4 separate regions of the Homo sapiens genome follow, and all the other regions are linked to region 2. Evidence: fine-mapped expression QTL. A gene starts in region 2. Each other region holds a variant in brackets. All regions are shown on one strand. Distances are from middle to middle.

Region 1 (7,960 bases), 21 kb after region 2:
TTGGTATAACATCTTGGCCACCTCTTCCAAAGGGAACCAGAAATTATTCTTTTTATGAGGCCAAGGGAACTTACATTTGTGTGCCACTCTCTGCTAAACACAATAGTGGTTAGCTGTAATTCTCACAGCGTCCACATTAAGTGTTTCCATTTCTTGGATGAAGAGTCTAAAGCTTAGATAGTTTAAGTCTCTTACCTAAGCAAAGTTAGGGGCAAAGCCATGGTTAAAATTCAGGTAGAGTGAGGTTTGTTTGTTTGTTTATTTTTTGGAGACAGAGTGTTCCTCTGTCGTCCAGGCTGGAGTGCGTGGTGTGATCTTGGCTCACTGCAACCTCCACCTCCAGGTTCAAGTGATTCTCCTGCCTTAGCCTCCCAAGTATCTGGGATAACAGGCACCCATCACCACGCCTGGCTAATTTTTTGTATTTTTAGTAGAAATGGGGTTTCACCATGTTGTCCAAGCTGGTCTCGAACTCCTGACCTCAAGTAATCTGCCCGCCTTGGCCTCTCAAAGTGCTGGGATTACAAGCAAGATTGAGCTTTTAAACCTACGCTCTTTTCAGTTTAACATAGTATACCATTGTCCCCAGTGCAATTCTTTATAGCAAATATAGTCTCTATTAGCAATGCTGAGGTTTTGTCTAAATTTATTCTGTTACACAATCAGGAAATGGTATAATCTAATGCTTATCTAGTTTTATTATTTCAGAACTATCAGATTGATACCTACTCCACTTACTTACAATGAAATAATTCTACTTCTGAAAACCACTACTTGTTAGTCTGCATTATCATCTCTGGGAATATGAGAAGCAGTATATACAGACTTGTACTCCAGTCTTAATTTCTGATGCCTACCAGCAGTGTGAGCCTGGGCAAATCACTTAATCCCACTACACTTCAGTGTCCTTATCTACAAAATAGAAATGCTAGTGGCTAATCATAGGATGGTTGCATTGATGAGATTGAGAACGTATGGCATAGTGCATAACACATGGTAGGTGCTTGGTAGATGTTGGTTATGAATTTACTATGAGAAGTTAGTGACACAGCATTTCCTTGATGAAGTCAGCTTTCTGCTAAGAATAAAAGCTGGGTAGGGAGCTCTTAACCTTGAATGTTAATTATCTTCAAGTTTATTGGCTGAAGGTCTCAGCTGTACAAAACTGATCATTTTCCAAGAAACATAGCACTTTCAGCTCTTTTGTGCTTTGAGAGTGACTTGCTTTGGATTCCCTTTGATCACTGTGATGGCTAACTAAATGATTTGCCTCAGTTAACCTCAAATATGAGTACAGTGTGACCATTAGCTATTCCTGCTTCCATGACAACAGGGCATCCTGTAACTCACCAATTTACCGTTAGGACTAGATTCTAAACTCCCTTCTGGAATTAGGTTGATATGGATGCATGGCGGCTTTGGCTGCATAGTGCTTGTTACTCACATGCTCTAGCTCGTCACAGCTTTATTTGTGACATCTGTTCTGAACACATCATGTCTCTTCCACTCTCTGGCCTGACACACCATATTGACTGTTACTGCCACTGTATTGTCTTCCTACCTGCCTTTTGGCTCTTCTCATGATTTTAAGGATTGAATACCCTTAAACAAATATATAGAATGAAGTTGGCCTGTAAGAGGGATTTACCGTTACCTGCAAATGTTATCTTGAACCTCTGAATTTTATTTGCTATGTTAAGTTTGTAACTAAACTTACTGGGTGTTTTAATTTTCAGTTGCGATCCGAGGTTTTTTTGTGTGTGTGTATGTGACACAGGCTCTCACTCTGTCACCTAGGCTGGAGTGCAGTGGCGCAATCTTGGCTCTCTGCAGCCTTGACCTCCTGGGCTCAAGCGATCCTTGCACCTCTCAGCCTCCGAGTACCTGGGACTACAGGTGCACACTGCCACATCCGGCTAATTTGTATATTTTTTGTAGAGACGGGGTTTCACCATATGGCCCAGGCTGGTCTCGAACTCCTGAGCTCAAGTGATCCTCCCGCCCCGGCCTACCACTGGGATTACAGGTGTGAGCCACCGCACCCAGCCAGGAAATTTTTTGTTGTTGTTGAGGCAAAGTCTCACTGTGTCGCCCAGGCTGGAGTGCAGTGGCACGATCTCGGCTCACTGCAACCTCCACCTCCCAGGTTCAAGCGATTTTCATGCCTCAGCCTCCCAAGTAGCTGGGACTACAGGCACGTGCCACCATAGCTGGCTAATTTGTTTGTATTTTTAGTAGAGATGGGGTTTCGCCATGTTGCCCAGGCTGATCTCGAACATCTGAGCTCAAGTGATCCTCCCACCTTGGCTTCCCACTGGGATTACAGGTGTGAGCCACCATGCCCAGCCAGGAAATATTTATTGAATACCTACAATGTACCAGGTATTGTACTAATGGACTCTTCAATCTTTTGAGGAATCATGATACAGGACATAGAACTCATAGAACTCAGTGACTGAGGCAGTGGCAGAGGGCATTGCCCAAGCACAGGGCACAACTTCTGGGCCCACAGAGAAATCCATTCACAGCTTGCTTTGGCTTTGTTATACAGAGCAGCAGTTTTCTCACTAGTCTGTGCAGATATATGTTTCAAAAGAGCAAACAAACAGGATTTCTAAAGAGAGGGGATCAAGGGACTACTACCTTAATTAAGAACTCTATCCCAATCACCTTCGTACCCCCTTTTCCTATCAGAAGAACAAAAATCATTACATGAAGGGTACCACGGGTGTCAGACCCCATTAGGAAGCTCTGCATATAGTAGCATATTTTGTATGAGATTTTTGTATTTTTTTAAAGAATAGAATAGTTCTAGTTATAGGAAGATTTTTATGAGTTACTTTGCCGTATTTGCTTTATTTTTCCCTCTCCATCCATCCCTATTCCTCTCTCTCTCTCTCTCTCTCACATACACATGCTTTATGCTTTTTTGCTGAACCATTTGAGAATAAATTGCAGACATCATGCCTCTTTACCCCTAGATACTTAAGTATGTATGTCCTCAGCTTAAGGGTATTCTCCTAATAACCATGATACAGTTATTACCCTTGGGGAATTTATCATTGATATAAAAATAAAATGGAACATCTAAATTTCCCTTAATGGGGCCAGGCGCTATGGCTCACACCTGTAATCCCAGCACTTTGAGAGGCTCAGGCTGGTGGATCACCTGAGGTCAGCAGTTCGAGACCAGCCTGGCCAACATGGTGAAACCCTGTGTCTACTAAAAATACAAAAATTAGCCAGGCGCGGTGGTGCACATCTGTAATCCCAGCTACTCGGGAGGCTGAAATAGGAGAATCTCTTGAACCTGGGAGGCGGAGGTTGCAGTGAGCTGGGATCGTGCCTCTGCACTCCAGCCTGGGCGACAGAGCAAGACTCCATCTCAAAAAAGTAAAACAAAAAAATAAATAAATAAATTTCTTGTAATGGCTGCCAGTTCCTATATTGGACAGTTCTCAGGTCTAGAACACTCTCAGAAGGCACTGTAGCAGAGGAGGGTGCTGAGCATAGTGCAGCAGAGCCCGGGGTGGGGGGATAGGGGACTCCTACCTCAGCAAC[G/A]CAGCAGACCAGTAGCGGGCAGGAGTGGCAGGAAGGCTGGCTGGGTGCCAACAGGAGAATGAACTAAAAGTCTGCAGACAGAAGGGCCACCCTCTGTTCTGACCTCTAGAACATTAACAGCAGGCAGTTATCCCTATCGGCAAGGTAAAGGACAAAAGGGGGTTCTTCTCTAAAGACACTGATGGAACTATTTCAGGAGAATCAGGGAAGCTGGTGTGGTATTAGCGCCCACTGAAAAGCCCCAGTGTAATCAGGAATTCAGGGAGCTCTCTCCGCCAAGAGCCCCACAGGGCTCCCAGTCTTTAGCCTGCTTCCTTCCCAAACCTGACTGAACAACCAAAGATCACCACACGTCTGAGGGAAGCCTACAGCGAGAAAGAGACTAACAAAGACAGAAAAATGGACATTAACCCCCAAAAGAGACAAAATCTGACTGGCCATAAAAGAGTGCTTTAAAATATAATTTAGCAATAAATCATCTACAACCCCCCATTAACATCCCAGAGAAGATCGCATTTTCCAAAGATGGCCATGAGGATACTTTTCTACAGTGTGACCTTGGCACCCCTCTGTCAGGAGCAGGAGTCGAAATTTCCTTCTGGAGTCTGGGCAGGCCCTGGCTACTTAGCCTAATTGATTGTGGCAGACTAGGCCAGCTGTGTGACTTCTGAGCCTGGGTCATAAAAGGCCATGCGGCTGCTGTCTTTTCACTGAAGTGGTGGAAGGATCCAACTAGCCCGAAGCTGCCGTGATGTGAGGGAGCCCAGGAAGAGGCCACCCCAAGCTGCTCAGATGGGCAGTCCTAGTTGTGCAGTTGTCTGTCCCAAGCATCAGACTTAGGAGTGAAGGGGCCCTCGGATGTTTCCAGACCCAAGATCTAGTCACCCTGCAGCCTTCGGGTTTTCCCAGCTGAAGCCCAGATAAGCCATCCCTTCTGCGTGCTGTCTAAATTCCTGACTCACAGCATCTGTGAGTATCATAATATGGACTTTGGACTGAAAGAAGTCGTGTAATATCTAGATGTTTTGGGGCACTGAATTTGATAGGGAATAAAGTGTGCGTGAAATCCCCAGTATTTGGCTCTTTGTCTCTGAAGTTCTGACTCACTCTTTTTGTTTTTGTTTTTTTGAAATGGGGTGTCACTCTGTCACCTGGGCTGGAGTGCAGTGGCACAATCACAGCTCACTGCAGCCTCGACCTCCTGGCTCAAGCGATCCTCCTGCCTCAGTCTCCTAAGTAGCTGGAACTATAGTCACGCACCACCATGCCCAGATGATTTTTTATTTTTTTGTGGAGACTGGGTCTCCCTATGTTGCCTGGGCTGGTCTTGAACTCTTGGACTCAAGCAGTCCTCTTGCCTCAGCCTCCCAAAGTGCTGGGATTACAGGCATAATTGGCTCACTGTTATTAATAACCAAAACATGGTCTGGCCTAGAGTGGAGGCAGCCCCAAGTTTGGCAGATTCCAAATCTGCAGCCTATTTTGATCCTTCTTAAATTCAGAAATAAATGTTCTTGAACAAAGGAAAACTCTTAAGCTCTTAAGGCAGTGAGAAACTGCTCATGAAACAAAACAAACATTTTAAAAGTAGAAACTAAGTTTTTAAAAAAGTGATTCTTTGAAGGACATTCACAACCATTTGGTAGGTCTCCATTCACATGTCAGATTGTTTCTTCTGAAGGACTATTCAATTAATCATTGTTTAACCCTAGTAAATCAAAAAATTAATGACTTATTCTAAAATTCAGTGTTTTCAACAGATTGAAATCTTATAACTACAACTAGAGAAAAGAAGTTGAAGAGCTCACCTGCACACATGGACATAAACATGGGGACAACAGACACTGTAAACTACTAGACGGAGGGGGAAGTGGGCGCGGGTTGAAAAACTACCTATTGGGTACTGTGCACACTGCCTAGGTGCAACATACACATGGAACAAACCTGCGCATGTACCCCCTGTATCTGAAATAAAAGTTGAAAATTTTTTTTAAAAAGCTTAAAATAATATGTTCTCAGTTATATTTTACCAATTTAAACATGGCTAATGGGAAAAGTACATTGCCAACTCAGACATTTAGTTGGTGATATTAATCGAAAGCATTTAGTTGATGATATTAATAAAAATTATCAGAATGAGCTGGATCATTCTGTTGGGGTTTTTTGGTGCCTTGCGGGTAATTTTTCCATGTATTGCTCTTTATCTCATTATTGCCACTCCCAAACCACCCCCCAACCCCCACCAACTGCTAAAGCTGAACAATGGACAAAGAAAGCCTTCAAGTAATCCAGACAGAGGAGACTCTACATTTTAGGAGGCATGGTCTCTGTTGATTGAAGACAGTACAAAATATGTCCTCAGCCTCTGCTTTAATTAAAAGGTACTTACTATCAATCACTTGAACCTAGGAGGCGGAGGTGGCAGTGAGCCAAGATTGTGCCATTGCACTCCAGCCTGGGCAACAAGAGCAAAACTCCATCTCAAAAAAAAAAAAAAAAAAAAAAAAAAGACACTTATTATCAGGTGACTTGATTAATTGAAGAAATAATTATTTTTTCTGCCGCCTGTAAATTAGTCGAAAAGAGGATTAAAACGAAGCCAGGGTTATCAGCCACTATGTAAACCAGGTATAAAGAAATATGTCTGTGAGCTCCTGCTCTCAGGTGGCTAGCTAAACGCTCTTGGCTACCTCCTGGTCCCACCATAGGGAAGGCTCCCTGCATTACATTGAAAGTCATTTATATTTCTGTGTCTATTCACCCTAGGTCTTGGTGAATGTGAAGCTATATGGAACCTTTCTAGACAAAGCAAATCATACCTTTTGCAAATATAGTAATTGTCTCCAGCTTCCCAATAAAAGGACAAAGTATAAAAAACAAACAGAGGCCAGGCGCAGTGGCTCACGCCTGTAATCCTAGAACTTTGGGAAGCTGAGGCAGGCGGATCATCTGAGGTCAGGAGTTCGAGACCAACCTGGCCAACATGGTGAAACCCCGTCTCTACTAAAAATACAAAAATTAGCCGGGTGTGGTGGTGCATGCCTGTAATCCCAGCTACTCAGGAGGCTGAGGCAGGAGAATCGCTTGAACTCAGGAGGTGGAGGTTGCCGCCACTTGGTGAGCCAAGATTGCGCCACTGCACTCCAGCCTGGGCAACAGAGAGAGACTCTGTCTCAAAAACAAACAAACAAACCAGAAACAAAGGAGAATGAAAGGATCGTCAAACTTAGGAGAAAAACAGAAGAAATGCACATGAGTGTATTTGAGTCTAATGACCTGTTTGCATCCACTAAGTCAGAGTTTTCCAAGCCCCCTCACCTGCTCCCTTTGTCATCTTTGAACTGATACCAGGGAAAAACTTAATTGGTAAATTTGAATAAGATGAAGTATATTGAGAAATGCAGAATAAAAATAGAAAGTCAAAATTAAGGAATGTAGAGAAGCCAAGTAAGTAGGGAAAAAATGAAGTCAAATAATTGGAAAGCAGAACTGGAAAATACACAATATACCAGAAGACTTATCAAAACAGAACCCTCTGGCGAGGACATTCATTTAAAACCAAAATGTTTTTCTTGGTAAGTTTATTATTTAAAAAAAAATGGTTGTTAGAACCTTTTCATTTAAACTGAGTATCCGGCATTAATACATAGGAAAGATACTTTCAATGTACGTGAAGAAAGCACAGAAAGGTTATAAAAATCAGGCATTTCATACTTATTTTTAGGCTAACTAATTAACTAAAAAAGACTTATCCTCCTATTTAAGCTGATATATAATTAAGGTGTCTGAGTACAAAGAATTTGTCCCTAAACCTAATGTAGAATGTAAGAGACAAAACCTGAAATTTTCCAACTACTCTTTTTAAAAAATACGAACTTCTGGACTGAGTGTGGTGGCTCATGCCTGTCATCCCAGCACTTTGGGAGGCTGAGGCGGGCAGGTCACTTAAGGTCAGGAGTTGGAGACCAGCTAGTCCAACATGGTGAAACCTCATCTCTACTAAAAATACAAAAATTAGCTGGGCGTGGTGATGGGCACCTGTAATCCCAGCTACTCAGGAGGCTGAGGCAGGAGAATCGTTTGAACCCAGGAGGCGTAGGTTGCAGTGAGCCGAGATCACACCACTGCACTTCAGCCTGGGCAACAGAGTGGGACTCTGTCTCAAAAAAAAAAAAAAAAAAGAAAAAAAAAGAAATCAACAACAAACAAAGAAAAAAACAAACTTCTGAAAGCATTATCTATTATTTGAAAAAATCATTGAGAAGCTACCATAGGCGAGGCACTATAATATGTGCTATGGGGGATAGAGAGACAGATAAAAGTTTCTTTCCACATGAGTTTTATAACAGGCTGATAATCCAAGGAAGCTTGAAGAAAATGCTTCCTGAAATTTGGTTCT
Region 2 (7,960 bases):
TGTTTTTAACTATAGTCACCCTACAGTGCTATAGAACACTAGAACTTATTCCTCTTGTATAGCTATAATTTTGTATCCTTTAACAAATCTCTCCCTATCCTAATATCCTTTAAAAATTTTTTAATTGACACATAATAATTGTACTTATTTATGGGGTATATAGTGACATTTTGATACATACAATGTAGAGTGGTCAAATCAGGATGATTAGCATATCCATCACCTCAAACATTTGTCATTACTAATATCCTTTTTTTCTGTTCCAGAATCCCAACCAGGATAGTACATTATATTTAGTTGTAATATCTCCTTAGGCTCTTCTTGGCTAAGTGACAGTTTCTCAGGCTTTCCTTGTTTTGAATGCCCTTGATAGTTTTGAGGAGTACTGGTCAGGCATTTTGTAGGACCCCAGTCTCTGAAGTGAGATCTCATCACTTCTGGCCACACTCTTCTTTGTTAGAAGCATGAGCTAAGTCTAACCCACATTCAAGTGGAAAGGAATTAAGCTCCATCTCTTGAGGAATATCAAAGAATTTGTGGCCATATCTTTAAGACCTTTATTGCTTGCTAAAACGCAGATCTGCTTCAGTAGGGCTGCAGTGGGGCCCAAGAGTTTGCATTTCTTTTCTTTTTCTTTTTCTTTTTTTAAGACGGAGTTTCGCTCTTGTTGCCCAGCCTGGAGTGCAATGGTGCAATCTCGGCTCACTGTAACCTCCACCTCCCAGGTTCAAGCAATTCTCCTGCCTCAGCCTCCCGAGTAGCTGGGATTACAGGCATGTGTCACTATGCCCTGCTAATTTTGTATTTTTAGTAGAGATGGGGTTTCTCCATTTTGGTCAGGCTGGTCTCCAACTCCCGACCTCAGGTGATCCACCCGCCTCAGCCTCCCAAAGTGCTGGGATTACAGGCAAGAGCTACCGCACCTGGCCTAATCTTTTTTTTTTTTGAGACAGAGTCTTGCTCTGTGGCCCAGGCTGGAGTGCAATGGCGCAATCTCAGCTCACTGCAACCCCCGCCTCCCAGGTTCAAGTGATTCTCCTGCCTCAGCCTCCCGAGTAGCTGGAATTACAGGTGTGCGCCACTACGCCCAGCTAATTTTTGTATTTTTAGTAGAGATGCGGTTTCACCATGTTAGCCAGGCTGGTCTCGATCTCCTGACCTCGTGATCCACCCACCTCAGACTCCCAAAGTGCTGGGATTACACGCGTGAGCCACCGCGCCCGGCCTCTTTTTTTTTTTTTTTTTTTTTTTTGAGACTGGGTCTCACTTTGTCACCCAGGCTGGTGTGCTGTGGTGCAATCTTGGCTCACTGCAGCCTCCACTTCCTGAGCTCAAGCTATCCGCCCATCTCAGCCCCCCAAGTAACTGGGACTATAGGAGCGCACCACCTTGCCCTGCTAATATTTTTGTATTTTTAGTAGAGACGGAGTTTTGCCATGTTGCCCAGGCTGGTCTCCAACTCCTGAGCTCAAGCAACCTGCCCGACTCTGCCTCCCAAAGTGCTAGGATTAGACGCCCCAGGAGTTTGCATTTCTAACAAGTTCTCAGGTGATGCTGCTGCCGCAGGTCCAGGGATTTCACTTTTGAAAGCCACTGGGAGTGGGGTCTGCACTAGACCTTGGTGTGTACAAGGAGTTGAAAAAAGTTCATCAAGATCTATTTATCAACACACTGGTGTCACTTCTGGCCTCTGCAAGTTATCATGAAAGTATTAGGTAAAAATATATGCATTGCTGTACACAGGAGGTACAGTACCTTGTATTTATATTACATGTGGTTTATTTCATTTGACTGTCACAAATGCCAGGGAGATAAATCAGGTATCTTAATCTGACATAAAAATAAGCGTGACGCAGACAGGCTAGGTGACCTTAGCCTTGTCTAAGCACATTTTACATTATATAGGGCTCTTTCATATTGTTCCCAACTTCTAGGACTTTGTCACCTTTTGGAAAAGCAGAAATAAAATTAGGCACATGAAAGTTTAAATAATCAAATCAACAGAATGGATTTTAAGTAGCATTTTGTGCAGTGGAAAAGGAAGAAGTGAAACAAGCGATTTGCAAGCTCAGAAAGATCAGCGCTTTGTTGCTTAGGCTGAGAAAATCTCCCTCTCCACAAACATCCAGCTTCTTCCTGCTCACTGACAACTGCCACCAATTATCGCTCCACTTCCAGGTAGCACCTGAAAGTCACTTTAGGAACCACAGGCCACTGGTCTTCTCTTTGTCTGCCCATGCACACCAACTGGATTACTTAGCTCTTCTGGTAAAGCTCCTGGTTAAATAAGTTGTTAGTATGTCTTTTTTAATGCTTTGATTTAATTTGAATGGAAAAGACATGGTAGTCTACATACTTCTACCAAGATGAAGATGACCAAGATGTTCTTGAAAATCCAAAAGTCTAGAAGACCACTGGATGTCTTTTTTTTTGAGATGGAGTCTTGCTCTGTCGCCCAGGCTGGAGTGCAGTGGCACGATCTCGGCTCACTGCAAGCTCCGCCTCCCAGGTTCATGCCATTCTCCTGCCCCAGCCTCCTGAGTAGCTGGGGCTACAGGGGCCCGCCACCACGCCCGGCTAATTTTTCGTACTTTTAGTAGAGCTGGGGTTTCACCACGTTAGCCAGGATGGTCTCGGTTTCCTGACCTCGTGATCCGCCCGCCTCGGCCTCCCAAAGTGCTGGGATTACAGGCGTGAGCCACCGCACCTGGCCGAGGTCTTTTACTGTGTATGTTACTTTTCTTTACATTCAGAGTAGAGATGCAACTATTTTATTAAGCAAAGAATTGGCTGCATAAACGTCCACTGAAGGCACAAAAGCTAAATAGCTACCCACCAATAATCTCATTCAGTGAGAAAACTAGTCCAATCAGAGACCCAAGGAGTGGCTTCCAGTCACATTTGTACCTTTCCTTAAAGAACATTCTTCCTGTCCTTTTAGTTACATATGTTTATGTTTACATATTGCCAAAAAAAAAAAAAAAGCCAAGGTTTGGTGGAAATGGCTAAAGTAAGCTGTACTTTATTCACTCATAATAGGAAATAACAATTTCATATACTGAGCCCTGAGTTCAAGTTCACTTTTTTTTTTTTTTGAGAGGGGGGTCTGGGTATGTTGCCTAGGCAGATCTTGAACTTTTGGGCTCACGTGATCCTCCCACCTCCGCCTGCAGGGTCGTTGGGACTATAGGTGCATGTCACCATGCCAGGCTCTCAAGTTCACTTGAGATAAAGAATACCCAACACTGTGTAAGCATAGACTCCTGTCCAAAAGTGGTGGTGAAGCGTGAAGGGGGCTGTCCTATGGTGGTGGTGTAGAGAAGGGGTATGAAAGAAAGTGCCAGTGACCTTACATTTGATCCTTTCCAATGGTAGTAGTGGGGTGGGGGGGTATGAAACAGAGTCAGTGACCTTGCAATTATCCTGTCCACTGGCATTGGGGAGGTAGGGGGTGTTATTGACCCTTGACCTCACAATGGATCCCGTCCAACGGTGGTGGTGGGGGGACATGAAATGCAATCAGTCACTTAATCTTGTGCGGGAAGGAGGGGAAAGGAACCACGAAAAAGAGAATCAGCGAACTAACAATCCAGTCCAAAGGTGTTCCAAAGGTGTTCTCTTGGGAGTCAGGCAGGGAGGTGGGGGTGGGGCTGGGCCACGAAACAGAGTCAGTCTAGTTAGGCTGTAAAATCTAAGTGTCAGGATGCAGCGAACGGCAAGTCCTCCTCCCGGAAAAGGCGCCTGCGGTTGAGAAGGGTCTTGAGCAGCGCGGAGGATCGGATTCCGGGCTCCTGGCCTCTTCCCGGTCCGCGGGCACCTCGGCTACCTTTCGGCAGCGGAGAACCCAGCCAGAGGCGGAGCTGAAAGCGGCTGCACTTGCTGGGCTGGGCTGAGTCCCATGAGCCAGGGAGGGGGGTCTCTGGCGCCGCGCCCGGACAAAACACAAACGTCACAGAGGCAGCGGCGGCCAATCAGTGGAGGGCGCGCGCGGCCGCGTGCCCCTCGCGCTCCTCGCCTCCCCTCGCGCGCCGCGTACGTGCAGCAACCGACTCCGCCCAGCGAGGCGGAGCCTAGGGAAGCCGCGGGCGGCCCGCCGCTGTCCTGGAGCTGCTGCTGCTGCTGCGGCGGCTGCACCGGCGGCGCCGAGGCCGAGATCGAGGCCGGGGTGCGCGCTTCGCAAACGTGCCCTATCCGTGCGGCTTGGCTGCGCCAGCCCTTGCGGCCACCCGGGCGTCTAGGCGGGTCTGTGCGCCGCCCGGGCGAGGATGCGGCTGTTCCGGTGGCTGCTGAAGCAGCCGGTGCCCAAGCAGATCGAGCGCTACTCGCGCTTTTCGCCGTCGCCGCTCTCCATCAAACAATTCCTGGACTTCGGTGAGTACGGGGCCAAGGGTCCCCATGGGCCCGGGGCCGCCGCCATTCGGGCTGCCACCCCGGATCTCCGCAGCTTCGGGGTAAAGTCTGTGGGAACCGCAGGCGGGGCTAGGGAATATCCGGGGGGCTCTCCTGGGGCTCGGATTTCGGGGCGCGGAGGGGCAGGGCCTGGCCCCCTCGCACCCAGCCTGGGACTTACCCGGAGACACAGAAACGGCGTCTCATTGCAGGACCCTCATCGCAGGCGAGACTCCCCAAACCTGCGGTCGTTAGCTTCAAATCTGCTTGACACAAACCTCACAGCCCTTAAAACTTCAGAACGAGATGTGGGTGGCTTTTTAATGTTTTTATTTTTAGAATTTTTTTTTTTTGGTTGGGTAAGAACTGTTTAGAAATACCTTGAGGTTGAATAAATTATGCAATGGCATTTTGTTCCTTTTCTGCTCTAAGGTGTTGCTGTGTGGCTGGAGTGGCAGGACTCGAACTGTTGTCTTCATCAGGTTATGTTAAATCAGTTAGAGGCCTGGCCTGCAGACGCCTTAGATGCTTGGGAAGAGCGGACGTCTGGGATCCTAGCATCAGAGCAGGGTCTAATACAACTCTGGCTTTAGTGCCAGCACCTTTCGTTTCTCTTCTCCATTGGTGTCCCACCCACATTCTCCCTGTCCGGTGGGCTGGTGGGCGGCTTTCACGGATTGAGGTGGGACCAAAGAAGATTCGGGTTCCCAGCCTGCCTCAGGCCTAGCTGAGATGGGAATAGATTCCACCACCTTCTGTTAACTGAATCATGTTTCCCCAGAAAACGAAGGAGCTGGTTGTGAAACACCTAAAAGTAAAACGCATGCATTGAGGTATCAGAATGGAACTCAGCATCCCTGGAGGAAAATCAAATCCAGCAGCAAAGATGTTCTAAGCTCTCCAGGGGAAATCGTAGGGTGTCTGTTCATTTAATGAATTTTATGTAAATGTCAAGGGTGTCAGTGATAGTGTCAGTTGGGCATAAAAACTAAAGTGCAGAGTAGGTAGAACATTTGAGGAAGACCTGATATGCAAAAAGTGATGTCCATACTTTTTTTTTTTTAAAAGCTAGGATAGGAAGAGAGGAATAGGTTAAAGTTGAGACCAAATTAAAATTTTAGAAGCCAATTTGCCAGAGAATGATGATGAAAGTCAAAGTTCAATGACACGTTGATTTCTGCATCTTCAAACTTCACTCCCAAAAGCTATTGGTAGTTTTACTTACTATCTCGAGAATTGTAGAGGTTTGAGGCAGTTTCTGACTTTAGAGTTTAGAAAATGTTGCTATTGCTATAAATATAGGCAAGTTTTCCATCTTTATGGTTTAGGGAAGATTCTGAAGGTATCAGCCTTTCATTAGTGTAAACTGAAACAGGATAATTCACAATAAAAGGAACAAAAGGAATCCAGAAACTCCCAGTTCTTTCCACCCTCAAAGTTTAAGTGATAGCTCCAATAGCCAGCCAAAATTTTGGTTAGTTGATTTCCATAGCAGCTAGTGTCTACCCGTGTTAATAGGTATTTTGGTAAGGATGTTATGTGAGTAGGAAAACCACAGTGGAGGATAGTGTTATCATGGAAAACCTGTGAGGCCAGTATCTGGAAACAAATGTTCTAATTCTGGCTCTGCCACTAGCTCAGAATGTGGCCTTGACTAAGTGACCAAACCTCACTTGGGGTTCATTTTCCTCATTAATAAAATGAGTAGATTGTATCAGGCGATCTTTAAAAGCACAGCTCACCACTATACGATTGTGATTTCAAAGGAAGAGGCATGAACTTTCTAAAAGAAAACTACCAAATCTTTTGATAGATATTTCCTATAAAAGTCTTCTGACCTATTTTGGGAGGGGTGGAGGGATTCACTAAGGTCATGAGAGAAGCATAATAATTTAAGGTTTTCCTTATAAGGAAGCGCACAGAAGTGCTAGATATAGTTGTAGTGGAATTTGCTAGAAGTGACAAGGCTAGTTTGTAACACCCAGAGATGAATCAGGTGCTAATCAGCCTATCTTTAATGACAGGACAACTAAAAGACGGGAGTTGTTGCAAAAAGGCCATCTCTACTTCTACTTTTCTCTTAGTTCTGTCTCTTGATAGCAGTTCTATTTTGGCAATTGATGTGGGAGTTGGAGAATTCAGAATGGGTGTGGGATATTTTTAAGGTGAGGAGAGAGGAGGAGTGAAGAGGCTTCATGCCCCTGTATGATTAGAGAAAACTGCAGGAGAGGGCCAACTCAGGCACTTAAAGCACCAGGTAGTGGGCAGTGGATAAGTGAATGAAGCCAACGAGTTGAGGACCGTGATAAATTCCTGGTATATAGCTAGCTCCAAAGGGGCAGCTGATTGGCACCAATTCAGTATATTTCAAGAGAACTTTGGCATAAACAAAATAGATGGATGGATCAAGTTGGCCCACAGGCTGCTAGTTTATGAACTTGATGCCTTTCTCCATGGGTACTTTACAAATGGGACGTACATTTTGACTAGAGTAACTAGACAGGGACCAGAGAAAGGAGATACACAGGATATACACAATTTGTTACAACCTTGATAAATAGGCTTTCTTATGTGGATGTACTGCACATCAGTAAATAAGGAGATTATTTGCTATGTTCAAAAGTGGAGGCTAAAACTTGTTGTTACTTCAGAAGCTGTGCTTTTATTTTAAAGCAGGGGTTCCTGAGCCTCAGCACTCTTGCCATTTCAGGCCAGGTAATTTTGGTAGGAGCTGTCTTGTGCACTGTGGGAAGTTGAGCTACATCCCTGGCCTCTACCCACTAGATGCCATGAGCACCTCCCACTCCAAGTCGTGACAACCAAACATGTCTCCAGTCATTGCCAAATGTCCCCTGGGGGAGCAAAATGTCCCCTGGACTTCTGTTGAATCACTGTTTGGAAGTGTTTACTTGAGTGGTTTTCAGGCCAGGGCCTCATACTCTGAATTTTTGTTGTAAATGGTCTGGGGGTGCTGGGGGTGGAGAGCAGAGCACTGGTATTTTTAGGAGATCCCCCTGTCATTCTAAAGCATATCCAGGGTTAAGCACCATTAATCAGATGATCTTCTGTCTGATCTGCTGGCCCCCTTTCATCTATGTGCAGTATTTTTCTCTATGCTTTTTAAAATAATGAAAGTTTCTTGAACTCCATCTTGACTTGAAATATAGCCTGCCACACAGTTAGCAAATATAGCAAGAATAACAAGTGTTCTAAATGGATTTTTAATTTATTATGGCAATAGTACATTCCAAAGGGTGGCATTTTTTAAAATGAGATTTTTCTTTTGGGCCTAAGATTACAGTCACATGGTTCCAAATTCAGAGGGTTCAAAAGGACACAGAAAAGCCTGCTTCCCACTTGTGCCCACTGGCCTCCCCTTTTTTCGCATAAATGGCAGTTTATAGCTTTGTCTGTTCCTTGTTTTTTGAGCTTAATACCTTAGAGACAGATTTTTGTATATCTGTACCTGCAGAACTTTGTTTTTCTTTTTTATGGCTTCTGAGAATTTGGTTATATGAATGTACCAGAATTTATTAGCAACTTTCCCTATTGATGGCTACAATTAATAGGT
Region 3 (7,960 bases), 75 kb after region 2:
CCTCTGAGTTATAGTTATTTTTCCCTTTTTCACTAGAAAATAATCTGTGTGGTGTTATTTTGGCACTATGCAAATGTATACTTACCCATCAGCTGTTCACCTAATGGTTTTTACCCCAATTGATCATTTCGGCCTGTGTTAAAATTAACACAGTAATTTTATTTGGGTTTATAAAAGAATGTTTTTTTTTTAAATCATTCCTTTGTCAATTATTCTCCTATAAAGTAAAGCTCTTCCTCATCAAATAAGGCCATTTAGGTATTTTGAAGTACAGTTCCTCTGGTAACTGTTTAACTCCTTCCTTTTAAATTTAAAGGGACAATTAAATTCCCTTCAAGTTACCAATTTTCCAGGTAAGAAATATGTTAAAAGCCACCTTAAATGGTTAACAAATGAGTTTATGGCTTTGTCTTTTTTAGTGTTATAGTAGATTTTGTTACTTTGATATGTTTTAATTGGCACTTATTTTATTGAAGCATAACATATAGTAATAGTAAAGTGCACACATCTTAAGTTTACAGCTTTTTTTTTTACATCTATATTTCCTCTACCCACAAAGACTCCTTTCTAGTCAAACAGTTGTCCCTCCCTCCTCCACCATATAATTGCTTTTCTAACTCTATCACCATAGGTTCTCTTCTTGAATTTACAAGGAACACATAGTCTATACTCTTTTTGTGTCTGGCTTTATGTGAGATTCATCCATGTTATTGCATGTAACAGTCATTTTCCTTTTTGATGCTTGAATTGACATACCTTTGGCCAATGAGAGCTATTTCCAGCTGGATCCTTAGTGTTCTATTGCCAAAACTCATTAATCTTTGAAAGCTTTTCTTGCCCAAGATGATATCCTAGATTCATCTTATACCTTCTGTGCCTGTGTCCTAGAATCAACTGTTTCCCTCAAGGAGTCTTGTTTCTTTTCTTTTCTTTTTTTTTTTTTTTTTTGAGACAGAGTCTCACTCTGTCACCCAGGTTGGAGTGCAGTGGCGCAATCTCAGCTCACTGCAGCTCTACCTCCTGGGTTCAAGCGATTCTCATGTCTCAGCCTCCCAAGTAGCTGGGACTACAGGCATGAGCCACCACGCCTGGCTATTTTTTTTTTTTTTTTTTTTTTGTATTTTTAGTAGAGTTGGGGTTTCGCCATGTTGGCCAGGCTGGTCTCGAACTCCTGACCTCAGGTGATCTGCCTGCCTTGGCCTCCCAAAGTGCTGGGATTACAGGCATAAGCCACTGCACCCAGCCCTGTTTCTTTTTAATCAGTATTAGAGATGCTAATCTGATAATTGGGGATGCTTGTTATACCTTTTTTAGGCCCTTTTCCTTGACAGACAGAGCTATAAAATATAGCTATATTTAAAATATATTTTAAATCATAAGTTCATATTGATATTTTATTCTATTTTAACATTGTAATGTTTCTCCCCAATATATTTTAATTGTATATATTTCTTATTATCCTGAAAACCTTGATTTTTAACATCTTTAACACAATGCAACAGAAAGATATTTGTACACAAATACAGTTTATATAGCTTTGCAGTATTGTACCATTTAGTAGCGTTGGTCTTCTCTGACAAGTGTTATAAATGATATCCATATGGATGTTTATTTTTTTCTATGGAAGTGTCATGGTGGACTGCTACGCAATATTGCTGGACTGGCCACTCATCTCAAATGATGAAGTTTAGAGAAGTTTGGTTTGTGGAAACAAACATACTTACTCTCACCATTCCCAGCCAAGTTTAAGCTAAATCAGCTTGAAATACCTGGATCATATCAATTTCTGTTGATTCCATTTTCAGTCTGTATGTAAGTCAAATAGAATGTTGAGCATCGATGTGACCAGTTGATTCAAACTGCTCAAACTATTGCTCTGATATGTGGAGTAATTTGAGTAGTGCAGAAGCCATCTTTAGAAAAAGGTTTGGTTGTAAAAAGGTGGCTTTAATTGAATATTATTTTAAAGGCAATTTTTAAACTAAGGTTTAAACTAAGGTTTAAATTTTAAACTGAAGGTTGTATGCTGATTATTAGTCTTAACTTCTAATATATTATTAGGTGAACAAATTTAAGCAGAAAGCAGTTCTTAAAATTTTAAAATGCTTAGCCTGACAGTTAAAATTGTTAAACTATACAAATAATCGGTAGAGATTTGGGGAAAGACTTTAGTAAGTATGGTAAATTCACTAGGTATTTATACATGAGAGGTTCTAAGAAAATTTATTTTCAAAACAGTTTCTAAGTGAGAGTTTTATTGAGATTAATTCACACAACATAAAATTCACCCTTTACAAATATATAATTCTGGCCGGGCACAGTAGCTCACGCCTGTAATCCCAGCACTTTGGGAGGCCATGGCGGGTGGATCACTTGAGGTCAGAAGTTCAAGACCAGCCTGGACAACATGGCAAAACCCCGTCTCTATTAAAAATACAAAAATTAGCCGGGCGGTGGTGGCGGGTGCCTGTAATCCCAGCTACTTGGGAGGCTGAGGCACGAGACAAACCCAGGAGGCATAGGCAGCAGTGAGCCAAGATCACGCCACTGCACTCCAGCCTGGGCGACAGAGCGAGACTCCATCTCAATAATAAATAAATAAATAAAAGTATACAATTCCATATTTTTTAGTATATTCACAGAGTTGTGCAGCCCTTCCCACTAACTTTAGCATATTTTCATCACCCCAAAAAGAAACCTCATAGTTTTTAGCAGTCACTCTATATTTCTAACCAGAGTTTTCACTGACAGTAAAGAACCGTTTTAAAGTATATATAAGTAATTAAATGGTCATTCTATTTCTGTAGTAATTGTAGAAAATAATTCTGAGATATGGCAAGGGTTTTTGAATTATCACTATAATGAAATACTCTAAAAGTCCTGGTCAAAACAGAGGAGGTTGTACTCACAAACTCACTATGGATATTCTCATTATTTTCTTTGTAGAGACAAGATCAAGACTAATAGAACTTTCTAGAGGACTGAATGCTGTGGTCCTCTCTGTGAAGAAAGATTGCCTTCTGCAAGTCAAACAGAGAGAACTGCTTTCTCCCACCTGCTCTGAGCGTGGCATCACAGTTATTCCTAGTGCTTAAATGTGTATTTTCTCTCTACCACCTGGACTTTCCCAAAGAGTTTTTCCTGTAGCTACTCCAGATCTTCCACTAAAGTAGTAACTTTTTAATGACATCTTGCTGTGGTGTGATTGATGCCTGTCACCGAAGAGCACAGAGCCTCCTTACAGCTCTTGTGCCCTCGTACTCTCCATCTTGTTATCATAGCATCTGATGTCTTCAGTCCTTCCAGGATTCTGTGCGCCTTTCCCATTCCAGATACAGCAGATCGTACTGTTGCTCCTTGTGACCAAATACCATATTTGTCCCAAACCTCCACCTAGGGCCCTGGGACCCTGAAAGTGGAAGACATCAGGTGGCCATGCCCTGATGATTTAGTCCCAGAGCCCTCCGTCTCTCCCGTGCCTCCCTCCGCCACTCTATGATTTAGACTTTTGCCTTCTTCCATCTGATCGGATTCTCATTGTGAGATGTGGTGACTTTCATGTTAGATCTTCTTCATTGATGCCTTGGTTTTATTTTAAAATTCATTTGTATATGTCTGTTGATTAAAGCATTCGAAATGTTATCTTAGAATTTTTCACCCAACTGCTTGGTTTCAAAGATCTTAAGTGAAAAACTGCCTCCTGGTCAATACCAAATTTGTACAGAGTGTGAAGTGGAGTTTTTATGCTTCTGTCAAACTTCCATCCATCTAATACTGTACCTGTGTCATATTTTATTCCTTTGTAGTCTTCTAAGGAATTGGAAGTTTCTGTATGATGCGCTTTACTAGTTGTAAAATAGACTATC[A/T]GAGGGAAAAGGCCTCTCTAGTTTATTTTTGAAAAATGCTCCAGGTCTTAATAATTTTCATTTTCATTCATCTTAGTTTTAGAATTGTCACCTCAGTCTGATTTTCACAATCCTTTTTGCTAAAAGTTGGAAGTGGGAATTAGCAGACGATTTGGGATAAGGAAAGAGGAATGATGTTATATTTACCCTTAGGAATAGAAGTGACCGAAGAATCCGGATTGAAACCAGCATCCTATATACAGCTCCACAGGATGTGCTTCTCTTCATGGTAATTTTCCATATATATCATCTACTTTGATTTCTGCCCCGTTTTAATGTCCATATAAATGTTTCAGTCCAATTTGTAAGTGTTGAGTCCACTGATGTAGAAGTTCTGACTTGTAAACCATTCATCCTGCTTTAGTCATATGATAGTACCGATGCAATTAGCTCCTCTCCCACCACCGTGGGGGATTTCTCCCTGAGATGAGGTGTGCTTTGACCAGCTGCATGTGGCTTGATTGCATTCCTGTTTCTCTTAGTTCCACTGGATCTTGTTTTCTTTTATTTCGTTATATTACCTGAGCTCAGGGTAGTTCCGTTCATCTTTAGAAAGAGCTCATCTCTTCCATCCTTAGAAGGATCTCATCAGAGAACTCATATGTAATCAATCAGGTAAAAGAAATACTGATGTACTTCTGAGAGACTGGTGAGAGGTGGGTCATAGGAAGCCCATAGGTCTGAGGACCGAGTCAGTGTCTTGGGGATGGGGCTGTTCCATATGATTATTTTTGTGTGGCATAAAAGATGTAAAAAAAAAAAAAAATGGTCCTTTACATGCAAAGACCCTAGCTTCCTTTTTTTTTTTTTTTTTTTTTTTTTTTTTTTTTTTTTTGAGACACAGTTTCACTCTGTCCCCTAGGCTGGAGTGCAGTGGCACCATCTCGGCTCACTGCAACCTCCGCCTCCCAGGTTCAAGCAATTCTTGTGCCTCAGCCTCCCGAATAGCTGGGATTACAGGCATGCACCACCACGCCCAGCTAGTTTTTGTATTTTTTTGTAGAGACGGGGTTTCACCATGTTGGCCAGGCTGGTCTCGAACTCCTGACCTCAAGTGACCTACCCACCTCAGCCTCCCATAGTGCTGGGATTACAGGTTCGAGCCACTGCGCCCAGCCGACCCTAGCTTCCTTATAAACATGAGATAATATCTTCCTAGGCCTCAATTTCCAACGATACTCCTTTATGCTTTCAAGTGTGATACACTGTAGGAGAGAGGAGGCAGCAGTTTAGGGGGTGCTGCCTACTGCCTGACTCTGACAGCGTTTCTCTTGTTTGAGGAAGGCCCATCGATCACCACATCCTCACAAGCAGTACCATGTAAGGGGCCGAATATGGATAATATGGTGTAGAAAAATCTCATCACATTCTTCCCTTTACAAGTGTTTTTCAAAAGTAAAGATTGATTTCAGTGTCTTCATGACTTAATCGGTAGTTCTTTACTAGCACGCTTTTTGGCTTACTCACATCCATCTGACCCCAGTACAACCTTGCTTCTCCTGTCTTTGTTTTCTTCATTAAGAATTTATCTTTAACCCTAAAGCAACTGCAAGAAGAGTTTCAGGAACATCTGTGTTCTTCTGGCTTACTAGCCTCTTTACCCAAGTATTCATTTATCCTGTTTGTCAACTGTACATGATTCTTTTAATTTAGGCAGAGAATCTGGCTGTTTACTGGGTTTGCCTATAAGCAAATGGTCAGATTTCCCCCATATAGGTTGTAACACAAATAGACATGGACCCTTTTTCAGCTAAATTCTTTCCCATTCCTCTGTACTGCTCTTTCATTTACTCTATTTTATTTTAAGTGGGGACTGTGTCTATTTAAAATAGTGCCTGACACATAGTAGGTGCTTAATAAACAATGTTAATAAATAATATTAAAATAATGAATAATATTCATAAATAGTAGGTGAATCAAAGATAGAAAACTGTCAGACATTTTCCTTGGGTGGTAGGGCAACATCTTTCTAAGTTCTTAAACCATCCTTGTCTCTAAATTAAAAATATGGAAGTTCAAGTCAGGAGCTGTGAAAGTGCTGAATTTCCTTTTTATAGTGCTAAGAGATGACTTTAAAATGTAGAGAAATGCAAGGAAGTGGAGGGATAGATCCGCAGGAGCCATCTCTTCCTTTTTTTGTCTCTGAATATCTGATTTTGGCTCCTGAATACAGAATTCTTTCCATCCAAACAGTGTGACATAGTTTTACAGCCTTGTGTATAGATTCCAAAGACCTTTTGCATACAGCATGCCATTTGATCCTTACAATGCCATGAGCTGGACTACACAGGTATATCGGTTTTTTGTATGAATCCCAAAGCAATTAAGGAGTTTGCCAAGGTGGCATGGTAAGTCAATGGAAGGGCCAAAGCAAGCACTTGGGTGCTTGGAACAGTACGCCAGGTGATTTGTATTATCTCTTTTGAGGAATTTCTTCAGTATACTATTCCTCAAAGGGTAAGCTCTAAACCCCAAATTATCTGTAGAGCAAGTTAATTCCGTTCAGGAGAGGGTTTCTTTTGTGTGTTTCCATTTTGGCATAGTTAGAGGAGATAATCAGATGGATTTGGCAGCTTTTACCAAAAATGACAGGCAACTTAAAGTGGATAGCTGTAGGTAATTACTAGAGTTATTTAGACTTAATTCTGTGTCTGAATGAATTCAGTGCTTACTGCCAGCCCTTTCATACAAAGACTCCACATTTGAGAGCTGATGTTTTTATCTTTTTTGCAGACTGGATTACAGCTTCGGTTGGGTTTTCTTGCATATTTACAAATGTATTCCTGTTGCTGTTACTTACGAACAATAACTTGGCTGGCTATCGGATTCTTGGATCACAGCCTTTTTCCTTGAATTCTCTGGAGACAGGATGTTATTGCTACTTTATGGTTGTCCATATCTGGTGGTGCTGACAGGTCTGAGTCCTGATGGATTTTTCTTCCCCTTTTGTAGATGACCTGATTGTTTGCCCTGGATACTTGAATTCTTTGTTTATCCTTGAAATTTAGTAACTTCGTTGGAGTATATCTCAGGATTGACTGTTGTCTGTTGCCTTTTTCTGGAATGCAGTGAGCATTAGATATGGTCATTTCAAGCCTCACTGCGTTTTGTATCAGTTTAGTCTGTTCTCTTCTTGAAAACTTCATTTTTATATTGGCTCTCTGTCATCTGTCCTTCACAGTTATCTTTCCTTAGATGGCACTCATCTCATCTTTCTTCATTCATGCTGTATGATTTTTTTCTCAAGTCTTATCCTCCATTTCACTGACTGACTCAGTTTTCTGTACTGTTGATTCTAGGGCTTGTTCCTTGTAATGTGGCTTCCACTTCTGTTACAGTTTTATTTATTTTATTTTATTTTATTTTATTTTTTTCAAGATAGTGTCTCACTCTGTCACCCAGGCTGGAGTGCAGTGGTGTGATCTCTGCTCACTGCAACCTCCGCCTCCCGGGTTCAAGCAATTCTTCTGCCTCAGCCTCCTAAGTAGCTGGGACTACAGGCTTATGCCACCATGCCTGGCTAATTTTTGTATTTTAGTAGAGACAGGGTTTCACCATGTTGCCCAGGCTGGTCTCAAACTCCCGACCTCAAGTGATCCACCAGTCTCAGCCTCCCAAAGTTCTTGGATTATAGGTGTGAGCCACCGCGCCCAGCCTAGTTTCATTTTTTATCTCTTTCTTTCCTGAGCTCATTATGTTGTCCTCTTTGATTGCGTATTTCTTCCAGTGCTGAACAATTTTGTCTACAGTTTTAGTGGTTTATGAGCTCATTCTTTTTCTAGAGTGTATTTATCTATCCTTTGCATCTTTCATTCCTTTTCTTGTATTGTTTTGCTTTTATCTTGATGCACAAGTATCATGATGACCCCTTCTGCTTATTATTTATCTTTGCATGGTACCAGTTTTACCTGTCCAAGAAGAGTGTGGGTAAATCCTCCTTGACTCCTTCTCTTTTGAGCGAGACATGTTTGAAGGATAACCTTAGCACTTGAACCCTAAGGCTAGCTCTTGATGGGTTGTAGTGGTGGAGGGTGTTTTTGGTTTTCATTCTGTTT
Region 4 (7,960 bases), 160 kb after region 2:
CATTTTTTAGTCAGCCTCTTAAAATGAAAACCTCACTCTCTCCAGACAAAGCAAGCGGTGTTTTTGTAAACAAGGCAAATGCAATCCAGAGTTGTCCATTTGTAGTCTTTGAACTGTGCCGTGATTGCAGTCACCACTACATCATCTTTGTGATTTTTAAAGCTAAAGTGGATCAGTCATGGTAAACATTATTCACTGTGCTGTATCAATTGTTTCTTAGAGATGGAGACAGGTTAAGATGTGTTCCTTAACCTGGGGACACTAGACTGAAGAATGATCCATACATTTGGACAGGGGCTATGACTCACTTCTGCCATTTATTTATCCATTCACTCACTCATTCAAATAAGTGGCAGGCACTATCTTGGAATCTGGGGATAGAAGTAGGGATAAGACCAATAATCCCTGCCCTTGGGGAGCCCCCATTCTCTGCACTGACGAGAACCGATCCCTCCCCTGTCCCCATCCCCTCTCCCCATTGCAGTCCCTTCCACCCTAGAAGCTCAATGTTGTCTGGAGGCCTCCCAGTTATCTGAGATTTTCTTAGCCCTCACCTTCTCCTCCAGGGCTCTGGAAGCAAACCAAGACTTGGGACAAGGATTCAGGAAACTTGGGTTCACTATTCGTTCTTTTTCAGATACATTATGGCGACCTCATAGGCTGTGGTAGACCACAGTGGCATTTGTAATGTAGCAAAGGGGTGCAGTGACAAGAACAAAAACTCTGTATCCACAAACCCCGGGTTCAGATCCCCTCTCCAGCACTTACTAGCCATGTACTTTAATTTGGCTCTTCTGGTTGAAAGGAACTGACACTCACTAACAGACACTCACTAACATTAGCTCAAAGGATGGAGGATTTCTTTTAAGACTACCCTGGAACTGAAACTGTGGAAAAGCAGGAAAGGGGCAGAATGTGGCCCCAGAGAAGGTGCTCTGCACCAACTTGGCTGCTCTCTGCACATGATCCTTTCTGTCCCACCCCCACTGACTCCATTTCCTTCCACTGCATTAAAGCCGCTGCTTGCTTTCCACTGCCCCACAGCTTCAGCTCTAATAGGCCGGCCCATCATGGCCTCCTCAGCCTCTCTTCACAACACTCATTTAACAACTTTCCATTGTGCCTTTCAGCCCTAGACTCCTACCAACTTATTGACTCTTTCCATGTTTCCCAATTCAAATTCCTAAGGGAGAATCTGATTGGCCAAGTTCATCTTTTCAAATCAGGCCTTAACCAGGATTGGCTGGCGTTCGGTCAGGCGCCCACCCTGGGGCCCAACAGATGTGGTGAGGAAAGTCATGAGTGACCCACCACTACCACTTCAGGAGGAGCTATACTTGAGGCAGGAAATATTTTTGACTTTGTGTGCTTAAAAGCAAGTTCCTTAACTTATTTGAACCTCAGTTTCATCTATAAAATGGGCTATTCATTTTGCAAGGCTGTTGTGAAAAGCAGAGATAATATGTGTAACATACCTGGTACTTAATAAACTGTAGCTATTATTACTGCTATTATTATTCACTATTATATATAATATGATATAATAATAGATAATATAGTTACCCACAGAAACAAGCAAATTGACTCATTTTTATTTATTTTTTATTTATTTATTTATTTTGAGATGGAGTCTCACTCTTTCTCCCAGGTTGGAGTGCAGTGGTGCGATCTCACCTCACTGCCACATCCGTCTCCTGGGTTCAAGTAATTCTCCTGCCTCAGCCTCCCAAGTAGCTGGGACTACAGGTATGAACCACCACACCTGGCTGCAAATTGACTTATGAATGGACTTTTAGCACACAACCCAAATGGATAAATGGATTGGCAAGTGGGATTAGCTTACATTAATGATTCATTACCTTTTAATATATGTGGGCAATGAACCTTTTTCACATGACCTAAAATAAATTACTATTTGGAGATCTTGTATGTGCTACTCACAAAGTTTATTAAAGAGGAGATAAGGTGTTGCCATTTTCCAAGAATGGTGTGTTCTTGATGGTGTGAAATCTGGTAATTAAAACAGAGATAGGGAACGTTGTAAAGCAACAATAGTTACTCAAAGGGGAAGAAAAGGTTTATATGCACCGTGCATTTTGTTCTTAATTATTATGGCCTAGAAGTAGGAAAGAAGGAGAAACAAAGAGATGGAAGGCAGAGAGAATTCCTAAATGTGCGAATGTGTTTGTGTTTGCATGTGTGCACAGGTGACTATCTTTAACAGCAGTTGATATGGAGAAGAGCTATTTCTTGTTATGTATAAAGCAATGTGCTCAGAATGGGGAGAATGAAAAAATAAATGAGCCACAGCCTTGCTGTCCAGAACATTGCTTTCTAAAGCACAGCAGGGTACTTCTTGAGTTGATCAAGCTCTGCATTCAGGAAGACTTTGGTTAAGGCCCAGCTACTACCAACCAGCCCGGTGACCTGAGACAATGTTTTTTCAGTCCAAACACACCAGATTACAATTAAAAAAAAACTCCTTCTCTGAGCCAGAACAAATCATTTGCTTTATAAAAAATTCTATGCTCCTTAGGTTCTGTCTCTTCCATATACTAGAGGCAGATCAACTTCAGGACAATGTGAGTAAGATAGAGGCTTCTGGGAGGGGCAGGAACTGAACTAACTTCACCATTTGCCAAAGCTGAGATGCTTCCAGGGATCCTCTGGTGTAGACCCTACATAAAACTAAGGCCTGATAACATAAGGTAATAGCTAAATCTTTGAGTACCTACTTAGTGCCATGTATCCATCGATATACTAAGCACTTTAAATGTATTTGCTCATTTAATTTGTACAACACCTCTGTGAGGTAGATATTATCTTCACTGAACCAGTCTTCAAGGTGACACCAAGTGACAGCAAGAAGCAACAGCAGTGGTAGATCCCTCAAACTCAGTTACCTTTTTGGCTCCCTGTGAGCTGAGGAAACCCTCAGGATTTTTAGACTATAGGGATGGAAAAACCTCGAAAAGGGGATACATGATTTCCTGATAGAGAAGGGGTAACTCAAACAATTAACTGAAGAAATAAAAGCATGTAACCATATTTTTGGCCAGACTTAATGAAGTAGGTCAAATGACTTGCTTGTAGTTATTTGCAAGCCTCAGGTTAGACTTTAAATCAGCCAGATCACATTTTGTAGTGTTTATTAGCACATGATACATGTTTAATATGATGCTAGGGGTTTGGAGGATAGAGAAATGGAGGAGAGAGATAAGAAAGGCAGGAACAGAATTGGCTTTGCAGCAGCAATCTTCTAAAGTGAAGAATGACCGTTTTAGAATGGGAGAAGGTATTCGTTTGAAAGGGCATGTTCATGTTCATGTTCAGTTTTCAATAACGTCAGATTTGGGGAAAACCACTACTCTTTTGAGCATGAAAATCATAGAAACTAAGCTTCTGAACTTGTGAAGATCACAGAAGACAGACTATGCCCTTCTAGAGAGCCATATTCCAAATTTGGGGTTTGGTTGGCACATGAGATTTACATATATATATATATATATATATATATATATATATAACTTTAAATTCTAGGGTACATGTGCACAACGTGTTTAGCAGAAGACAGCAAGGATCATAAAGGGTTAAGAAGCCCTGGCCCAGTGCCCTGGACCTCACATATGCAAGGGCCTTGCCAGACCACAGACTTGGAGCTAGGTTGCAATAAAACTTCTTTCTACCTAATTGAAGATTTCAAAATACTCAGTCATTACAAGGTGAATATGTTACCCATTTGTCACATAAGTTCTGGTTATATAAACTATGCCATAGAATCATACCAAAGCCACATTTCATCAGGCTTTTAAAGAAGACATTATATGTTGAGCATTTCATGTATAGAATCTCTTCAGTTGGACATTGTCAAATATTTACTTAAAACAAAAGCTATTAGGTACTGGACAATGGACAATGCAAATATTACTTAAGTGCAAAAAAATGGTTGCTAGAACCTGCACTTATGCAATGTACATCGCTGACTGACAACTGGACCAATCAGACAACAAGCTAATCAACCAATCAGAACTTAGCACAGTACTGCTGATGGTGATAGGCCAACTGCAGAGTTGCTTGTTTAAGCTAAGCTATACTTTTTTTTTTTTTTTTTTTTTTGAGACAGAGTCTCGCTCTGTCGCCCAGGCTGGAGTGCAGTGGCGCAATCTGCTCACTGCAAGCTCCACTTCCCGGGTTCA[T/C]GCCATTCTCCTGCCTCAGCCTCCCAAGTAGCTGGGACTACAGGAGCCCGCCACCACACCCGGCTAATTTTTTGTATTTTTAGTAGAGACAGGGTTTCACTGTGTTAACCAGGATGGTCTTGATCTCCTGACCTCGTGATCCGCCCGCCTTGGCCTCCCAAAGTGCTGGGATTACAGGCATGAGCCACCGCGCCCGGCCAAGCTAAGCTATTCTTAACTCCAGTGGGGCAATCCCGTCAGACAGGCCTGAGTTCAAATCCTACCTCCATTATTTAATATCCCTTTCCTATTTTTACATTTGATTTTTAGCAAATTGCTGGTTCTTAACCTCTCAAGCCTTAGTATCCTTGTTTATGAAAGGAGGATAAGCTGTTGTGAGGATTAACTAAAAGAATGTGTGGGTAATAAATATCTTCCCTTTTGCCTCTCCAGAATCCACTCTCTTTCTACCCTTCTCTATGCTTTTCCTCTACTCTTTTCTGTATGGCTTCCCCAATGGACTGCACCAATGGGATCTCTGCCTCCTGCTTCCAGTTGGTTGGGAAGCGTGCAAAACAGTGGAGGTCAGGACAAGAGTGAGCTCAGGGTATTTGTCTCCCTGGCTTCCTCTCTGCTAGGAAGCAGTGTGTTGGTTCTGTCCTTTTACCAAAATTCACAGCTTCTGTGAGGGGGTCCTCTTTATAGAGCTGTCTGTGTGAGGTTCTGGTAACCACACTCACCCCTTGCCCCTACCAGCCTGGGGGATGGCAATCCCCCATTGTTTCTAGGCCAAGGATACTATACTATTCCTTGAGGTTTCCTTAAACCCTGCCCATACCTTTGTAAGTATTACCTTTATTAAACTCTCTTTCAATTTCACCTTTAGAGTGAGCCATCTGTGTCTTGACAGAGCCTTGGTTAATACCGTGTCTATAACAGTTTGTCAGGCTCAAACATTAGCTAGAAAATGCTGATGAGGTATGTTAGAAGCATAGAAATCAATTGAAAAGTGAATTACCCAGAGTAACTAAAGTTATAACCATCTCAAGAATGTCTCTGGTAGAAAAGAATTTTACAAAGACAGAACATTTTAATCAGGATATGCAAAAAAAGATAAGAACAGGACTTCAGAAAGAATCTACTTCTTCCAGGTAGGCCTTTTGCTGTGAAACTCATCAGCTTTAGAACCACAAATTCAGAATTACAAAAAGACATCACAAAATCTAATCCAGCAGCCTCATACTGTTAGGTTTATATTTACTTGTTTCTGAACATATTTTTAAAACCTTATTTATTGTGGAGTCAGAATATTTTGTCTTTTGAAGATAGAGAGGACAGAAAAAAATAGATAATATAGTTAACCATGGGCCCAACACACACGAATCACTGGATTCTTAGACTGTGTCACTGATTATGTAGACTCTTAAATCAGGCAGCTGGTGCAAAGTCATCACCAATAAATGTCACTGGAGAGAAGAAAAAAGAGGCCCAGTATGTGGTTCAGCACCAAGAAATATCCATTTTTTTCATTTAGTTATGTATGGAATGTACATGTTATAAGTAACAGGCACCATTGAAAACAGCAAGACAGATACGTATGTACTGACAGGGAATTATATCTAAGACATTTTGTTGAATGCAAAAAGCAAGTCACAAAGCAATATGTATAATATGTATGTATACATGCTATCTAGTATGATGTCATTTATAGTAAAAAGAGAGAGAAGGGGGAAGAGAGAGAAAAAGAAGAAAAGAGAGAGGTAATTGTGTAGAAATAGTTTAGGGACAGGCGCGGTGGCTCATGCCTGTAATCCCAGCACTTTGGGAGGCCAAGGCAGGTGGATCGCCTGAGGTCAGGAGTTCAAGACCAGCCTGGCCAACATGGTGAAACCCTATTTCTACTAAAAATACAAAAATTAGCCGGGTCTGATGGCACACACCTGTAATCCCAGCTACTTGGAAGGCTGAGGCAGGAGAATTGCTTGAACTTGGGAGGCGGAGGTTGCAGTGAGCTGAGATCACGCCACTGCACTCCAGCCTGGGTGACAAGAGTGAAACTCTGTCTCAAAAAAACAGAAAAAAGAAAAGAAAAAGAAATAGTTTAGAACTGTGCTAATATGGTAGCCATTAGTCACATGGGGCTATTTAAATTCAAATTATAATTAATTAAAATTAAATAAAATTAAAAGTAGTTTGTCATTCACATTAGCCACATTTCAGGTGCTCAATAACCCATGTGACTACTGGGTACTATACTGGGCAATGCAGATATAGAACATTTCTATCATCACAGAAAGTTCTACTGGACAGCACTGGACTTGAATGATACACATTGAATTGTTAATTGGGGTTACCTCTTGGGAAGGAGATAATATTTTGAGAGAAGAGATGAAGAGATTTCATTGTTTATTCCATATATGTCTGTCATTTTGTTTTATTTTTAAAATGAGAATGCATTCATGCAATGTTCATAATGCAAAAATAAATTTAAAGAAATATCTCCTCTCCTTTAAATTCAGAGATGCAGAAAATTTAATCAAGGCTCAGGTCTCCCAAATGTAGCAGGGATGGGGGAGGGAGGTCTATATTAAGAAAAGAGGAGTATTTTGAAAAATAAAAACTATTATCCAGAAATTAACTGTTAAATGATATGATTTGCAGGTATATGGAATATTTAAAACTCATTTGAGCTTTAAAAAATTTTTAAATTACTTTCATGGTATCTACCCGTAATTCATTTTTCTAACATCAGACAAACACTTTTTGAGTCCTTGCTGTGTGCCAGGCACTGTTCTAGCTTCTGAGGATACAACAGGGAACAAAACAAAACAAAAAATTTTGCCCTCATAACACTTAAAAATAATAAACAAGCAACAAAAAAGAACATAAAACATGTAGTATTTTAGTTAAAGGGTGATTAAGTGTTATAGAAAAAAATAAGGCAAGGAAAGGGAATAGGGAGTGTTGGGGGTATCACTGTAAATAGGATAGTCAGAGAAGTTGATGTATGTGTAAATATATAAAGGATCAAGTGAGCCATGTGGAGAAAGAGCATTCCTGGCAGAGAAAACAGTAAGGGCCAAGGCCATGAGGCATGAACATGCCTGGCTTCTTCCAGGAATAACTAGAAGGCCAGTATGCTTGGAGGAAGCGAGCAAAAAAGAAAAGATGTAGCCAGAGGTGAGACCAGAAGAAAGGAGATGAGAGGCACCCAGTCGTGTGAGCTTTTTAGGACACTGTAAAGACTGGCTTTCACTCTAGGGAGATGGGAGCCATCAGAGCGTTTCGTTTTGTTTCGTTTTTGAGAGGGAGTCTCACTCTGTTGCCCAGGGTGGAGTGCAGTGGCGCGATCTCGGCTCACTACAACCTCCGCCTCCTGGGTTCAAGAGATTCTCCTGCCTCAGCCTCCCAACTAGCTGGGACTACAGGCGTGTGCCACCACACCTGCCTAATTTTTGTATTTTAAGTAGAGACAGGGTTTCGCCATGCTGGTCTCGAACGCCTGACCTCAGGTGATCTACCTGCTTCAGCCTTCCAAAGTGCTGGGCATCAGAGCGTTTTGAACAAGGCATGATAATGATCTGACTTAGCTTTAACAAGACCATCTGGCTAATGTGTTGAGAATAAACTGTAAGAGGTCAAAGGTAGAAACAAGAAAACCACTGAGGTGTCTGGTGTAATAATCAGGCAAAAGAAGACAGAGGCAGGGGTCAGGGTGATCGCAGCGGAGGTGGTAAGAAGTGGTCAGATTCTGGATAGATTTTGGATCCATAAAACTTGAAACA

Direction of the effects. Positions count from the first base shown, and alleles are read on the strand shown. Sizes are in standard deviations (SD) of each study's normalised expression. Not every link is listed here.
For the expression in subcutaneous fat of the gene that starts at base 4,096 in region 2, allele A in region 1 goes with a higher level than allele G (small effect, 0.12 SD a copy in GTEx).

The links. PIP is the estimated chance that this variant, and not a neighbour inherited with it, causes the effect. A credible set is the group of variants that fine-mapping cannot tell apart.
Region 1: its variant is the best candidate, but not a certain one, in a credible set for the expression of PDK3 in subcutaneous fat (GTEx, PIP 0.90).
Region 3: its variant is the best candidate, but not a certain one, in a credible set for the expression of PDK3 in whole blood (TOPMed, PIP 0.75).
Region 4: its variant is the best candidate, but not a certain one, in a credible set for the expression of PDK3 in T cells (TOPMed, PIP 0.59).

What each region holds. Positions count from the first base shown.
Region 1 is chrX:24,481,961-24,489,920 of GRCh38, forward strand. The region is part of intron 1 of PDK3 (pyruvate dehydrogenase kinase 3); the gene reads left to right. Among named protein-coding and RNA genes, the nearest start is that of PDK3, 21 kb to the left of the region's middle. The variant G/A (reference allele first, on the strand shown) is at 3,562.
Region 2 is chrX:24,461,191-24,469,150 of GRCh38, forward strand. It overlaps PDK3 (pyruvate dehydrogenase kinase 3), which reads left to right and starts at 4,096. Exons shown (of 11, transcript NM_005391.5): 1 at 4,096-4,371. The coding sequence starts at 4,266. RefSeq lists a silencer at 3,837-4,156.
Region 3 is chrX:24,536,188-24,544,147 of GRCh38, forward strand. It overlaps a transcript of PDK3 not described here. Among named protein-coding and RNA genes, the nearest start is that of PDK3, 75 kb to the left of the region's middle. The variant A/T (reference allele first, on the strand shown) is at 3,867.
Region 4 is chrX:24,619,874-24,627,833 of GRCh38, forward strand. All of the region lies in intron 1 of PCYT1B (phosphate cytidylyltransferase 1B, choline), which reads right to left. Among named protein-coding and RNA genes, the nearest start is that of PCYT1B, 23 kb to the right of the region's middle. The variant T/C (reference allele first, on the strand shown) is at 4,197.